Linked DNA regions of Homo sapiens. Changing the gene in region 1 together with any one later gene gives a genetic interaction. Each region holds a gene or a part of one and is shown on either strand. Other genes may lie near its edges.

The links. Genes that interact genetically often act in the same process or in processes that back each other up.
Region 2: changes in HDAC2 (region 1) and SMARCA4 together harm fitness more than expected from each alone (negative genetic interaction), as found in Homo sapiens cells (one large-scale study listed by BioGRID).

What each region holds. Positions count from the first base shown.
Region 1 is NC_000006.12:113,961,149-113,964,648, reverse strand, and holds part of HDAC2 (histone deacetylase 2), read left to right. Parts: intron 1-2,254; exon of another isoform or gene 2,255-2,282; intron 2,283-3,500. UniProt on the Homo sapiens protein: Histone deacetylase that catalyzes the deacetylation of lysine residues on the N-terminal part of the core histones (H2A, H2B, H3 and H4).
Region 2 is NC_000019.10:10,967,530-10,971,029, forward strand, and holds part of SMARCA4 (SWI/SNF-related matrix-associated actin-dependent regulator of chromatin subfamily A member 4), read left to right. Parts: intron 1-3,500. UniProt on the Homo sapiens protein: ATPase involved in transcriptional activation and repression of select genes by chromatin remodeling (alteration of DNA-nucleosome topology).

The DNA of each region.
Region 1 (3,500 bases):
TGAAAAAGATACAGCATAGACAGACGACTGGTCCCAGGACTTAACTCCCGAGAGAAGAGAATTTAGGGCAGAACTATTGTTCACTGATGAACCCAAACCCTTAGAACAGTACCTGCTTGGCACATGGTAGGCTCTTGATTTATTAAATGAATGGCTGAACTGAAAACCCTTGATGTTTAAAGGTTGGTGGAGGAGTGGCCTTGGGGTACAAGTAAAATCCCAAGAAAATGGTATTATGGAAGCCAAGGCTCCGAATGTCTCAAGGAGGAATAACCTCCTTGAAATATGTATTAAAGATGTGTTAATATGTATAAAAAATGGATAGTGGGCTAAGTAGTCTGGAAGATGAAAATAATAAACTTTTTTCTTTTCTCTTGTTTTTTTTTTCCTGAGTCTCTTTTTGCAGTCAACTTATCTTTGTGGCTAAAGGTACATTTCACAGTTCTGAAATCCAAAATGACCTGAAAATTGAAAAAAATTTTGGTAACTCATTTGGAATCAAAATCTTAACCTGAATCAATGTGAGGCTATTTATGATCTTTATTCCTCTGTGAATACCGTGAATATTCACACTTTTTTGCTGTAGAAATATTAATGTTTGATTATATCATGCCACCCAAACTCTAGGCTATTACATAATATATGGCAGGTGTACCATATTATCTCTACAAAATCTGAAAAAGTGTAAAATTTGAAACATATCTAATTTGAAGGAATATGGATAAGAGATTGTGGACCTTAGTAGACACTTCCATTCTGTTAGTTTCTTGAAGAGTGAGCAATTTGTAAAATTTTGCAGATAAATAATTCTTTACAGTAATTTCTTTGCATTGACAATTAAAGTTTGTTGTGTTCAAGGAACCACCTTGAGCTGATTTTTCTGAATGTTTATTTCATTGGTAAAGTATTTTTATGTACAGGTTGAATATCCTTTATCTGAATTCTTGGGACCAGAAGTATTTCAGATTTGGGGAGGTTTTGCAATATTTGTAATTATTTACCAGTTAGCATCCCTAATTCGAAAATCAAAAATTTGACATGCTCCAGTTAGCATTTCCTTGACTATTAAGTTGGTGCTCAAAACAGTTCAGATTTTGGAACATTTTGGATATCAAATTTTTGGATTAGGGATAATCTGTATTTTGATGCAAATCAGTAACATTTAAAATGCCCAAATTATTAATACATTACTGACCATTTAAATGATGAATAAAAATTGTAGGGTCTTAAAACTTCTTAGCCTTTTTATACTTTATGAAAAAGTGGGCTGGGCACAGTGGCTCACATCTGTAATCCCAGCACTTTGGGAGGCTGAGGCGGGCAGATCATCTGAGGTCAGGAGTTTGAGACAAGCCTGGCAAATATGGAGATACCCCGTCACTACTAAAAATACAAAAATTAGCCGGGTATGGTGGTGGGCGCTTGTAATCCCAGCTACTTGGGAGGCTGAGGCAGGAGAATTGCTTGAACCCCAGAGGTGGAGGTTGCAGTGAGCCAAGATCACATCACCGCACTCCAGCCTGGGTGACAAGAGCGAAACTCCATCTCAAAAAGAAAACAAAGTGGATGCCTACAAAGTAGCCATCTAGAGAATTGTGAGATACAGAATTAGTGGGAAAAAGTTGGAGATGGTTATTTTATAACGCCTTTATATTTTAGAAGAATTCTTTTTTTTTTTTTTTTTTGATACAGAGTCTCGCTCTGTCACCCAGGCTGGAGTGCAGTGGCACGATCTCGGCTCACTGCAACCTCCGCCTCCTGGGTTCAAGTGATTCTCCTGCCTCAGCCTCCTGAGCAGCTGGGACTACAGGCGCATGCCACCACACCTGGCTTTTTTTTTTGTATTTTTAGTAGAGACGGGGTTTCACAATGTTTGTCAGGAAGGTCTCGATCTCTTGACTTCGTGATCTGCCCGCCTCGGCCTCCCGAAGTACTGGGATTACGGGTGTGAGCCTCCACGCCCAGCTAGAAGAATTCTTGGTAAACCAAAAAATTATCTGTAGCTTGGCTGCCCTGTATACATGTATCATTTAGGTTCTTTGTGTATTCTTTGTGGGACTGGGGTCCCTAAATTTCAACAGAGAAACTTGTTGAAAGCTATGCGTATTCGTATACGATTTGAGGACCCTATTAGTAAAAAGTAAATTACTCTGATATATTAGGTACAGTTTCTTGTGTTCATTTTCTTTAAATTAACCAAGACCCTAAGCCTTTATTTAAAATATTTATATTTCATATTATGTCTTTTTTTCAGCCTTCACCCTGCCATTTCTAGTGAATCTGTAAGTGTCCTTGACATTCCCTGTTGTTATTACTTAAGAACATTAGCTGTGAGCTGCCCTGCCAGAGTTTGAATCTAGCTCCTCCACTTGCTGGCTATGTGACTTAGGCAATAATACCTGACTTGTCTGTTTCTCATCCTTCTTTACTATTATACAATAGGAATAATGTAATAATACCCACATCATAAGGTTATTGACAAGATTAAAAGATATGTGAAGTACTTAATAGTGCCTTCTAGTAAGCACTCAACAAGTGTTAATTACTGCTTTTTTTTTTTTTCAAACACACTTGCTCAGAAATTGCTACTGTAGTCTCCAATTATTGGGGCCTGGGGCTTTTCACTGGATTTTCAGTGTGCATCAAATAACTAGAGTATTTGATGTTATGATGTGGTAGATGTTAGAGACATTTCATTTGGGTAATTGTTACACAGAGGCAGATAGATGGAAGTTATTGTTTAGTTTGTGTCTTTTCTGTTTTAGGTGATATTGGAAATTATTATGGGCAGGGTCATCCCACGAAACCTCATAGAATCTGCATTTCTAGTGAAGACTAGACTTTCATTATTTTTACTTTAATGATTTCTTTAGTAGTGATAACTAAGAAATGCCTTCCCTTGTATTAATTTAATTACATGATGCTTTGTAATAACACTAGTGGGTTTTCCATATCTAAGAAATGATGAGACCAGGCTGCTTTCAAGGAACTATATATCCCTTGTATTGTCACCATGTAAGGTAGAGCTTTATGGTAGATTCTTTCTTAATAGGTAGTTTATTTTCTGCAATCATAGCCTCTTAATTATAATTGCAGAGGAATGTTGCAAAGGGCCATGGCCCTGCTTTGCTAAACTCTATATTGTTTCTTAGCCTTGTTGGCACCTGCATTAAAAAGGTGGCTTTCCCTTTAAAAGACTTTGTATATGAATTGTTTTCAGAAGAGAGCTGTGCTGAAAATGAAGTTAACTAAAATTAGAGGTGTGATACCAACAAAATCAAGTATTTATGTTATTAGAAGCATGGATTTTGTAAAAGCTGATTGTTTATCCCGTACTGTTATCAAATATGTAGGAGAGAGGACAAAAAAGTTTTTGGGGTTGTTTCCATTAAACAAACAAAAGGTGTATTTAGGGAGGACTTTGAAAGATTTAGTGGATAAATTGCATTTTTTATTCTAGCTTTTATTGTAATATATAAACCCGTGTTGAAATGATAGAC
Region 2 (3,500 bases), on another chromosome or scaffold:
TTGATCTCCTGACCTCGTTATCCGTCTGCCTCAGCCTCCCAAACTGCTGGGATTACAGGCGTGAGCCACTGCGCCCGACTGGAAGGGGGCTTTCTTTAGAAAATAGGTAAATGTTAGTAGGGTGGAAACCAACCCTGGCCCCTTTCAAATGTGTGGTTTTTTTTTTTTTTTTTGGAGACAGTTGTACTCTTTTCTCCCAGGCTGGAGTGCAGCGGTGTGATCTCGGCTCACTGCAACCTCTGCCTTCCAGGTTCAAGCAATTCTCCTACCTCAGCCTCCTGAGTAGCTGGGATTACAGGCGTGCGCCACCATGCCCGGCTAATTTTGTATTTTTTTTTAATTTTTATTTATTTATTTATTTTTTTGAGACGGAGTCTTGCTTAGTTGCCCAGGCTGGAGTGCAATGGCACGATCTTGGCTCACTGCAATCTCCGCCTCCCGGGTTCATGCCATTCTCCTGCCTCAGCCTCCCGAGTAGCTGAGACTACAGGCGCCCACCACCATGCCCTGCGGGGGTTTCACCATGTTAGCCAGGATGGTCTTGATCTCCTGACCTCATGATCCGCCCGCCTCAGCCTCCCAAAGTGCTGGGATTACAGGCGTGAGCCACTGCGCCCGGCCAGTAATTTTGTATTTTTAGTAGAGACGGGGTTTCTCCGTGTTGGTCAGGCTGGTCTCAAACTTCTGACCTCAGGTGATCCGCCTGCCTTGGCCTTCCAAACTGCTGAGATTACAGGCATGAGCCACCACTCCTGGCCTCAAATGTTTTTTTAAGTCCCAGACTGGTTTCCAGAGCTTTGCTTTTGGGGACTCTGTTACCTCCCTAAAGGGGCATAGCTTCATTTATGTATGTGGACACTTGTCACTGTGAACCGTTTTGCTCTGTGTGCAGCCAGCTGTGAGTGTGATAGAGTAGCACGGGCCCCGTTTTTAATAGTGATCGACTTTAAAATGGTTCTTTGAGGAGGTGTTTTTTTTTTCTTTCCACTTTTTATTTTTTTAGAGACGGAGACTCGCTGTGTTACTTAGGCTGGTCTTTAACTCCTGGACTCAAGTGATCCTCCAGCCTCCACTTCCTGACTAGCTGTGATTACAGGCGTGATCCACTGTGCTAGCTCTTGGGAGTTTTTTAAGTTTTCTCTTTGCCACTGGCAAGTCACGCCCCAGTGGCTCAGGAAGCAGGTGGCTGATGTGACAGTTGCTGCTCACCTGTTCCAGTGGGAGACTTGAGGGGGAGGGTCTGCTGTGTGCGACCCATCTTGCTCCGAAAGTCCCAGTAAAGGGGCATAGTGGATGTCTCATTGTGCCCAGGGAGCTGAAACTGCCCCTGTGATGATCAAATGTGATTCTGGCACAGCCTGGACTGGCTGGGCACCTGAAGGCCTTGCCTGCCTCCTGGAGGCATCTCCTGGGTGCCTGTGGGAGTGGCTCTTTACTTGCCCTTCCTCTTGACTCTGCCCTTCCTCGACCTTCAAGGTTCTCATCCTATTCCTTTTGATCCTCGGCCTGAATCAGTTACTCAGGCCCTGGAGTCAAAGAGACTTGAGGCGGGATTCTGTTCTGCATGGCTTAACCTCTTTGAACTCAGAATTCCGTTTTCCTCTCAGAATCTCCCTGGCCTCCACCCTCTACCTCAAGAACCAGGGGCTGAACCCCGGCCCTGCCTGTCTTTGCCAAGCCTTGCTCTAGGGCTTGGTCAGCCTCGAGGAAGGGGGGCCTTGTTATGTTTATTTAAAAATTTATGTTTTAGGTTTTACTTTCTTAGAAGTGGAGGTCTTGATGTTATCTCCCAGGCTGGTCTTGAACCCCTTGGCTCAAAGGATCTGCCTACTTCAGCCTCCCAAAGTGCTGGGATTATGGGCGTGAGCCACCACGCCTGGCGCCTTTTTATATTTCTTTCTTTTTTTTTTCTTTTTTTGAGACAGAGTTTGTCTCTTGTTGCCCAGGCTGGAGTGCAATGGCGGGGTCTCGGCTCACTGAAACCTCCGCCTCCTGGGTTCAAGCGATTCTCCTGCCTCAGCCTCCCGAGTAGCTGGGATTACAGGCATGCACCACCACACCTGGCTAATTTTGTATTTTTAGTAGAGACGGGGTTTCTCCGTGTTGGTCAGGCTGGTCTCAAACTCCTGACCTCAGGTGATCCACCTGCCTCAGCCTCCCGAAGTGCTGGGATTACAGGCATGAGCCACTGCACCTGGCCCCCTTTTTATGTTTCTAACAGCACGTCCCAGCCGAGACCCTGGTGTTCACCCTTGCCTCATCTCTTGCCCTCACTTGCACATCCATTCCATCAGCATGTCCAGAGAAATTAAAGTCATTATCAGACCGTGCCACTCCCGTGCCTGGAACATTCTAGCAGCTCCCCACTGCACTGGATGCTCCTGGAACCCCTTTACTGTGGCCCTCAAGGCCTGTGACTTCTCCCCTATGCCCCACCTGTGGCCGCACCCACTTGCCCTCTGAGGTATGATATGGAATATATTTGGTCTTTGCGCCACATGTCATAGGAGTGATAGGTGTGTCTTTTAAAATTCATAATGAGCCCCTTTTGATCACAGCTGAGTTTATGCTTATGAGGTGATTTAGGATGGGGCTCCTAGATAGCCCAGGATGGGGCTGGTTACCAGAAAGACCAAGTGCTTAGAGGGTGGCATGTACGGAGGGGCCATTGAAGCTGTCTGTATTGCTTCCATCTGGTTGACCCCGAGTCGTATCCGTTATAATAAACCATTAATGGGAAGTGAAGTGCCTGCCTTAGTTCTGGGCGCTGCTTTAGCAAATCAATCAAATCGAGGAGGGGGTTGTGGGAATTCCCAATTTATAGGTGGCTGGGCAGAAGTACTGGACCCTGGGATGTGCAAATGGCATTTGTAGTGGGAGCAGTCTTATGGGACAGCTCTTTTTCTTTTAGAGACAGAGTGTCACTCTCACCCAGGCTGGAGTGCAGTGATACAGTCATAGCTCACTGCAGTGTCCAGCTCCTGGGCTCATGTCATGCTCCCGAGTAGCTGGGACTACAGGTGTGCACCACTGCCAGGCTTAGCTAATTTTTAAATTTTTTGTAGAGACAGGGTGCTATACTTCCTAGGCTGGTTTCAAACTCTTGGCCTCAAGCAGTCCTCCCACTTTGGCCTCCCAAAGCACTGTGCTTAGGTGAGCCCACTGCATCTGGCCGATAAAGTCCTTAACTTGTGGGAGATAGAGTCTGAATTGAGTTAAATTGTAGGACACCCAGCTGGTGTTTGGAGACTTGGAGAATTACTTGGAAAAGACCCACGCATCTGGTCACAGAATTGTTCTCGGTTATGAGAGTATAGTAGAAGAAAACTGGTTTTCTCTGAGTTGGTGTCAAAAGTGCTGTGTGAGAGTGTAGAGAAACGGAGTGTGGGCCAGGCACGGTGGCTCACGCCTGTAATCCCAGCATTTTGGGAGGCTGAGGCGGGTGGATCACCTGAGGTCGGGAGTTTGAGACCATCCTGACCAACATGGAGAAACCTAGT